2 separate regions of the Homo sapiens genome follow, and region 1 is linked to region 2. The links come from fine-mapping of genetic effects on gene expression. A gene starts in region 2. The other region holds a variant in brackets. All regions are shown on one strand. Distances are from middle to middle.

Region 1 (4,380 bases), 30 kb after region 2:
GGGGATCGCCAACCCTCTGCTGGCGGTGCCTGCACCGAGCCCTGAGCACTCGAGCCCGAGCGTGCGGCTGCTGCCCTCAGGTGAGCCCAGGTGCGCGGCTGCTGCCCTCAGACAAGCCCCTGCTTCCTGTGGGCTGAGCCATGGCCTGCACCCTTGCCTCCTGGAGAACTGCTTTCAGATGTGGACTGTTGGAGGCAGTGTCTCACACCACCTCGGTGGTTGTGGGGCTCCTCGGTCTCCTCCCTCTTCCCTTCATGCTTCCTCCCCTGAGGAGCCCATGGAGGGGAGGCTCATGGCTTTCCATGTCCATAAATATCCATGTGCTGGCGACACTGCCCTGAGCGCCCGCTGCCTGCTCAGCCTCCCTGCTTGTTTCTCCGGGAGCCTCAGCCGCACCGTGTCTGGGCGGCGCCCTCGGCTGTGCCCCTCTGTAACCTGCTTCTCCCAGTCGGCCCCGTCGGTGGAAGGGCCAGCCCAGAGCTCCAGGGAGTCAAGTCCAGATGCCCCCTCCTCTCTCGCGCTTCTCGGCTTCCTTCGTCAGTGAACCTCACCAGCGCGGCCTGCACGCAGGTCCGCATGCCTGGATGAGCACGGGCTCCTTCCTGCTCGCCTCCTGCTTCTTCCCCAGACCCTCCAGACTCTCCATCTCACCTGAGGACAAGCCAGGGTCCTCACGGTGGCCACAGGCCCTCCAAGCTTGGCCCTGAGCCCTCCTGCCCTCGTGCCATGTCCACTCCCACGCTGTGGACCAGCCACACTCCTGATTTGGGCCCACTGCCCACCCTCCCTGCCTGATGTCCAGTCTGCTTCGTCCTCAGACACCGTTACCACTTCCTGGTTGATTGCTGTCCTTAGCGCTTTCTCTTACTCAGTTCATCTGTCCCGACCCCCATGAGGACCCAGCATTTCTTTTGTTGTTGAAGCATCCAGGGCCCAGCATGGTGCTGGTAGGCAGCAGCCCTCTCAGGTTTTATGTTGAGTCGGAAGAATGAAGGAATGAACGAGTGGCCTGTGTGACCCCTGGCCGTGGAGGAGGGGACTCGGGCCTAGCAGAGCTCTGTGCCAGGCGGCCGCCATGGGCTTGCGTGTGGGCCGGGCCCTGGAGCCCGCGTGCCGCTGTGACTGCTCAAGTGCCCCTCCCCTAGAAAAGGAAGCGGATACTCTGCTTTTCTGCAAACCACGGATGGTGCGGTGGGGTGGTGGCTTCAGGCTTTCTGCTCTGTTGGACCTCCCTTATAAAAGAAATGGGGCTGTACAAAATAACTTGTCATAAACACGTCGAGTGTCAGCTCCTTCCAGTAACTCAAGCTACCCTCAGTAACCCCAGACCTCTTCTCCACCGTTCCCATGCAGCTCCGCAGACGCTCCCTGACGGCCCATTGGCCAGTCCTGCCAGAGTGCCGATGTTCCCAGTGCCACTGCCCCCGGGGCCCCTGGAGCCGGGTCCTGGCTGTGTGACCCCAGGGCCTGCACTTGGCTTCCTGGAGCCCTCCGGGCCTGGCCTCCCACCTGGTGTGCCACCTCTGCAGGAAAGGAGACACTTGCTCCAGGAAGCCAGGAGCCCAGACCCAGGTGGGGCTGCAGAGATGCTGTCTCGAGAGCAGAAGCAGCATGGGGTGTGGTGTTTGTGGGGATTGGTGGAAGAGATTGAAGTTATTTGAGCTTGAAACAACTTACATTACTTGTCTTAACGTAGACCAGAAATTCTGGAAGTTACAGACTGGATGGGTTCAGAGTCTCACTACAACAGCAGTGTTAATGCCAGTTCCTTTTGTAACTTGGCTTTTTGTTGTGAAGCTTAAATGGCCATTTGGGGCAGGGCATGGTGGCCATGGGTCTCCTGGGGTCTGTCTTTAGACGGCCCTGCTGGACGCCTGGTGAGATGCACAGGGGCAGGTCATGAACTGTCTGGAACTCGATTTGGTGGATCTTGTCCCTGGTCTGTGCCTATGTCTACATGTGTGTATATGGACAAAGCAAAACATAGGCCTAGTTTTAAAAATGAAAGA[G/C]TGTGCACACATGTGGGAAGATGTTCAGCCTTGGTTTCTGCAGATCATGCTGGTGTGGCGGTAGCTGGGTGGGAAGGTGGTGTGCCTGTTGATCTGTGCGCCACACACACGTCCCGCCTTCTCGTGACTGAGATCATAGTTGCTCTCTTTCCCGTTGACAGGGATAGTGCCGCAGGAGGCGCCTGTTGGAAACTCACTTTCCGAGCTAAGCGAAGAAAATTTTGATGGAAAATTTGCTAATCTGGTACTTTGTCACATTTTCTTAAACTGTTTGTTTTCCATAAAGTTCATCGAGTGGGCACCCAGACTCCTTGTTGAGTTGTAAGATGATGGTAGTGAGGACTATGAAATTGTTTCTAAAATTGTTTCTTAAAGTGAAAGTGCTTCTAAATAGCTTTCATCCTTAAAATATGAAGAGTTGGTGAAAACACTGGCAGGGAAAGATGGGGAAGAGAGAATTCAGTAGTGTAAAAACAGTTACTTTAAGTAGAAGAAATACCCAAATATCATGAAATCCCCTTATTAATTTTAATTCTTCCAAAATGGGTACCTTCTCTGATTTCTACATCTCTTTTTCTTTTTTTTTTCTTTTTTTTTTTTTTGAGACAGATTCTTGCTCTGTCGCCCAGGCTTGAGTGCAGTGGTGCGATCTCGGCTCACTGCAACCTCCACCTCCTGGGTTCAAGCAGTTCTGTGCCTCAGCCTCACAAGTAGCTGGGACTACAGGTGTGTGCCACCATGCCCGGCTAGTTTTTGTATTTTTAGTAGAGATGGGGTTTCACCATGTTGGCCAGGCTGGTCTTAAACTCCTGACCTCATGATCTACCCGCCTCAGCCTCCCAAAGTGCTGGGATTACAGGTGTGATCCACCAAGCCTGGCCTTTTTTTTTTTTTTTTTTTTTCCCTAAGACATAGTTTCGCTCTGTCGCCTAGGCTGGAATGCAGTGGCGCCATCTTGGCCACTGCAACCTCCGCCTCCCAGGTTCAAGTGATTCTCCAGCCTCAGCCTCCCAAGTAGCTGGGACTACAGGCATGTGCCACCATGCCTGGCTAATTTTTTGTATTTTTTGGTAGAGACAGGGTTTCGCCATGTTGGCCAGGCTAGTCTCGAACTCCTGACCTCAAGTGATCTGCCTGCCTCAGCCTCCCAAAGTGCTGGGATTAAGGTGTGAACCACTGCACCTGGCCATCTCTTTTTTTTTTTTTTTTTTTTTTTTTTTTTGAGATGGAGTTTCTCTCTGTCGCCCAGCCTGGAGTGCAGTGGTGCGATCTTGGCTCACTGCATCCTCTGCCTCCCAGGTTTAAGCAATTCTCTGCCTCAGCCTCCTGAGTAGCTGGGACTACAGGCGCCCACCACCACACCCAGCTCATTTTTTTTTGTATTTTTAGTAGAGATGGGGTTTCACCATCTTGGCCAGGCTGATCTTGAACTCCTGACCTCATGATCCACCTGCCTCAGCCTCCCAAAGTGCTGGGATTACAGGCATGAGCCACCCCGCCCAGCCCGGCCGTCTCTTTTTCTACAGTAGAATTTCTTTTCTAATTTTTTGATCTCACAAGAGGATGTCCTGGAATTCAGTAGAATTTCTAACATTGTCACTGGTTTTCCTGAAAGTGAGATTTATCTCATTAGACATGTTTGGTATAAATACCTCCTCTGTTTGCTCTACTCCTAACCAGGAGGGATGGTTGCTTTTATACAGACCGCATTCTGGAACCTTCTTTACAGATACCCAGCCCTTCACGGGCATCCCATCAGTAGGCGATTGCTATAGTTTGAACTTGCATTAGGTGTTTTACCCTTTAAAATACTGTGTCCCTGGAAAAGTAAAAATGAGGGTTGAGCTATTAAAAATTGGGACTTGACCCAGGAATAAATATTTTTAAAAATCATTGTATCTTTGAGAACACCCATCGCCCCCCTCTGGCCAGTCTTCCCTCAGTGCATGCTCACACTCCGTTTCTTCCAGCCCGGAATCTCCATCGAACGCCCTCATTTGCATTCTGAGTGCTGAGTGCTCCCAGACGGAGCTGCTTATTAAGTGCGGCTGGCTCTTCTCTAGTCAGGCCAGGTAGAGGCTCTGGGAGGCCCAGTCAGGGGGCTGCTCTCCCCAGCCCCCTTCCTGCCTCCCTCTGGTCACCAGAGTCATCCGGCCTCTCAGTGATGTATTTAGGAAACACGCCTGGGGAATTGCATCCCCCTCTCTCTTTCGGTTCCTGTGAGGAGCCCCAGGAGAGCCTGTTCTGCATTTCCTTGCGACAGACCCCCTCGAGGACGGTGCCAGACTCGGAGGCCCCCCCAGGGTGGGATCGTGCCGACTCGGGTCCCACGCAGCCACCTCTGTCTCTCTCACCCGCTCCCGAAACAAAG
Region 2 (4,380 bases):
TGAGAGCTGTCTCCGTGCACTCAGGATTAGGGAGAAGAGGGGGAAGAAAGACAGCCGCGCCCCCTGCAGGTGATGTGGTGATTCACACCCCTAGGAGCCAACAGAAGCCGCTGTCTAACATCCCTGCCCTGAGGTCCAGAGACCTTGCATTTTATGCCTAGGGCAGGGTTGGTTTCTGCAGCTATGGTCTCTCCCATAGCTTAGTGCCCACCCCGGTGGGACCACAGGGTTTCGGAGGACCCTAGAGGGTCGAGCCCTGGGCTCCTGGCTCTTGGGTTCTTTGAACTCGCGAGCGGCAAAAGGCGAGCCCCACGCCTGAGAGGCAGCATCCACCTCTGCATCCCCCTCTTTGGAAAGGGCAAACAATGACACCTCCTTCCGCGGAGGGTGCAGAGCGCCTCGACCACTGGGAAGAAGCAGATGGGGGCAGCGGGGCTGGGGCTGGGCCCTACCACGTGCTCCCTAACTCTGTTCAAACAGGTCAGGAATCTGACTCCTGAAAGGCAAATGTTAGCTGAGCAGATTGGCCCTGGTGCCACGTCAGCCGGACTGAAGCTCTCCCTGCACCGCCTGCGGCCCTGCTGGCGTGGCACGGATATCACCCCCTCCCTCACCAGCCGCCGGCCCAGCTGGGGACAAGGGTGGCTCCCACCCAGGGAGGACCTCAGCCGCTGCTGGGAGCTCAGCCTCCCGCGATGCCATCGGGCGGGCACCCCCACCACGGCGCCTGCCCTCTGGAAGGAGCAGCAGAGGAAGGCCGCGGCTCTTCCCTGCCCTTGCCAGGCAGGTGTGCAGGTGAGTGGGCCCGGCATGGCTGGCCGCTTCCTCAACCGCTCAGCCTCCCTCGGCTCCTCCGAAAAATGAGGGCACAGAGGATAGTGCCCACCTGTTCCCTGCGATCTTCCGCGGGAGGGCGTGGATGCTGCCTGGCCTGGCCGTGGCAGGCACAGGAGCGCCTACCCGCCTCACCCCTCCGCTGGGTCGCTCTGGCCGCCCGAGCGCCCGGGCCCACTCGCCACCGACGTGCACTCAGCCAAGGCTGGGACCCCAGCGCCCCTGTGGGGCTGGCGGCCGGGGGAACGAACCGAGTAGGCCGCACCTCCCCGGGAGGACAGCAGGGCTGGGGCCAGGGTGGGCCTGGGAGGGCCCGGCGCAGCAAAGGCGCAGGGCGGAGCTTGGGGACGAGGAGCCCGCGCGTCCCCCTTGCGAGTCGGCGGACACCCGGCTCCGCGCGGTGGCCGGGCCGCCCCTCCCTGCCCGGGCCTCTGTGCAGAGCGAAGGGACAGTAGAGGATGCGTCGGGGAAACCCCAGGACGCTGGCCAGGGACTGGCGGCAGCCATCGACCAACTTCCGGCGCCGCTCGGTGCCCGCGGCCACGCCGTAACCAGGCAACCAGCGCGCAGGCGCAGTCGGCCCTCCGCGTCCCGCAGCTCCGGCCGCTCCCGGCGCATGCGCGGCCGCCGCCGCCTGCCCTCCAGCCTCCCAGCCCAACGGAAGAATGCGAGGAGCGCGCCCGCGTCAGGGCCCCGCGCTTCTCAGCTGGGCGGAGTAGCCGTTCTCGGTGCGTGAGCCTGCTGGCATCGGTCCTGCAGACTGATTTCCCGCTTGTGGCCTTGATTGAAGAATCCCATCTCTTCTCACATCTTAAAACGAAAAAAGACTGGGAGAAAGAGCCAGCGTAAACAGGGCGACGTACTGGGACGGCCCCGGCGCGCCTGGCCGGGCAGGTGGCGAGGGGCGGGGCCAAGCGGTGAGGCGGCAGACGGACGCCGGAGGGGGGCGGGGCCACGGGCGGGGAAGGACGGCCGAGGGGCGGGGCCAAAGGGGCGGGAACGACAGGATGAGGCGGAGAAAGACGGACGACGGGCGGGGCTAAGGGGGCGGGACGAAAGAATGAGGCGAGGAACGACGGAAGAGGGGCGGGGCCAAGGGGAGCGGGAACTACAGGATAAGGCGTGGAAGACGGGCGGGGGGCGGGACGAAAGAATGAGGCGGGGAAGAACGGACGCCGGCGAGGGGCGGGGGCAGAGGGGGCGGGACAGAGGGATGAGGCGGGGAGGACGGACGCCGGCGAGGGGCGGGGCCGAGGGATGGGCTGTGAAGGGCTGAAAGAGAACGCGTCTGGGCCGACGAGCCGAGGGGCGGGGCCAGGGGCGGGGCGCGCGCTGATGTCGTAAGCCGGACACGTCGGCGGCGCGGCGGCCGCGGAGACCCGAGCCGGATGTGCCAAGATGGCTGCGGCGGCTGAGGTGTCTGTGCTCGTCGCCAGCGTCGGGTGGGCTTTCGCCCGCGGCTCCTGAGGGATCGGTCTCAGCCGCGCGGGTGAGGGGGCGAGCGCGGGTGAGGGGGCGAGCGCGGGAGGAGGAAGGCGGAGGCCGGCCGGCGGAGCCAGGCCGTGGAGGTCGGGGCGCGGAGGAGAGGAGGCGGCTGGGCCCAGCCCCGAGCGGGCGGTGCATCTCGGGTCCCGCCGGGGCCGGTCGAGGGGACAGACGTCCGGGCCCCCGGGCCAGAGCGGAAGGCCGGACGCGGCGCGGGCCGCCGTGGGACTCGAGGGACTGACGTGGACCCGGCTGGGCTGCGGTGACGCCGGTTCCCGGGGCGGGAGGCTGGACCCCCAGGCACCCCTCGTAAGACTCTTAACTTTTCAAATGAGCGTGTCTTGTCCTCACCGGCTAGAAGGCTTCCTTAGCGATGCTGGTGAAGAGACACATTTACATTTGAACCAAAGAGCAGAGTTGTTTGTTTGTAATTTCTTGATTGGGCGATCAGGATGTTGCAACAGAGGCCGAGGGTTAGAGGAGTGTGTGTGATCCGGCTCGCCCCTTTGTGATGGAAGTGTTACAGTAGAGCCTTCAGAAACATCAGAGCCATTTAAAGTCAGTTTTTGCCGCTTAAGAACACTTTTAAATGGCTTGTAAGTTGGGTGTGGATTGTATATTAAGATTTTGTTTTACATGTGTGATGCCGATGTTAACCAAAGAGGTATTTCCCATCCCCCATGTGGCAATACGAAGCAAACGGAACCGCAGACGGTTCTTCCTAGAAGTGATACTTTTGCAAGTTTCAGCACAATGCAGCCTCCCTGCGTTTTTTCCTCATCCCCTTTCTTAAGTTTCAGGTGCTGGTATCTTGTAGACAAGAGGCAAAATAGCGTGTCTTTCTTGTTCCTTGTTCCTCGTTTACTGTTAATAGTGGTTACTACAGTGAGTCTCAAAATTGTACTTAAAGTTTTCTTTGAGGCAGTGGGCACTTTTTTTTTCTTTTTCTTTGTCTTTTTTTGCCAAATCCAGCAAGAGGTCATGGTAGTGGGTAAATGTTAATGTGATTTCTTCTTCTGTAAGCATCTTTCATGAATACCAGGGTCTTCGTCATTTTCATCAGTGTTAGGCTGCTGGCCTCCTCTGTCGCTGGCTTCCTCTTCAACATCTAACTGTATGTGGTTGCGATTCTAACTTAGAAGAGTTGGAGTTGATCATGTCTTTGTGTCAAGCATCCCACAGTCTGACAGGGCGTCACTAGCAGCCACCGTGAGGGAGACTGTAGGCAGTAGGTAAACTCAGGGGCTTCCTGGCACACTATTGTTTTCCTCACTTAAAATATGAAGCCAGTGGCAGCAAGAGGAGAGGGGTGTGCATGCATTTTAAATGCCTCAGTTCTGTAGCCAGAACTGTACTAAAAAGAGTTTTGCTTAGGTATCCACATGGTTACAAGGCAGTTTAACTGACTAGCTAGGTTTATGAATACTGCATTTTCAAGATCAGCTGGCCTCTTTGGAACAATAAAAGAATTAGATGACTTGAGGTTACAGAATAAAATTCCCTGGGCCGGGCGCGGTGGCTCATGCCTGTAATCCCAGCACTCTGGGAGGCTGAGGCGGGCGGATCACGAGGTCAGGAGATCGAGACCATCCTGGCTAACACGGTGAAACCCCGTCTCTACTGAAAATACAAAAAAAAATTAGCCGGGCGAGGTGGCGGGCGCCTGTAGTCCCAGCTACGCTGGAGGCTGAGGCAGGAGAATGGCGTGAACCCCGGGGGGCGGAGCCTGCAGTGAGCCGAGATCGCGCCACTGCACTCCAGCCTGGGTGAAAGAGCAAGACTCCGTCTCAAAAAAAAAAAAAAAAAAAAAAAGAATAAAATTCCCTGTAGTGGTGACATAGGTGATAGGCAGTTGCATTGTTTTTCTCCTGGTGAGTAGAGAAAAAGATCAAAAAAATCAGTTCAAGTCACAAGATTGTTCCAAATGAAAGTGGCATGTTGCTAAAAAGCTCTCAATTAGGGAGCATGAAGGTTGGAATGCTCCTTGTAAGTGATAATGTTTGCCATAAAAAAGCTCTTAGTCTAGGAGAGCTGCGGAATAATTTTTTTTTTTTTGAGACG

Evidence for each region. PIP is the estimated chance that this variant, and not a neighbour inherited with it, causes the effect. A credible set is the group of variants that fine-mapping cannot tell apart.
Region 1: its variant is the best candidate, but not a certain one, in a credible set for the expression of SEC16A in whole blood (INTERVAL, PIP 0.87).

The regions. Positions count from the first base shown.
Region 1 is chr9:136,451,301-136,455,680 of GRCh38, reverse strand. SEC16A (SEC16 homolog A, endoplasmic reticulum export factor) reads left to right here. Exons shown (of 32, transcript NM_014866.2): 20 at 1-80; 21 at 1,354-1,572; 22 at 2,171-2,253; 23 at 4,273-4,380. Among named protein-coding and RNA genes, the nearest start is that of INPP5E, 14 kb to the right of the region's middle. The variant G/C (reference allele first, on the strand shown) is at 2,010.
Region 2 is chr9:136,480,881-136,485,260 of GRCh38, reverse strand. SEC16A (SEC16 homolog A, endoplasmic reticulum export factor) reads left to right here and starts at 2,221. Exons shown (of 32, transcript NM_014866.2): 1 at 2,221-2,323. C9orf163 (chromosome 9 putative open reading frame 163) reads right to left here and starts at 1,766. Exons shown (of 1, transcript NR_172629.1): 1 at 1-1,766. RefSeq lists silencers at 1,109-1,538, 1,689-1,868, 1,939-2,048, 2,279-2,598 and enhancers at 838-1,582, 2,328-3,073.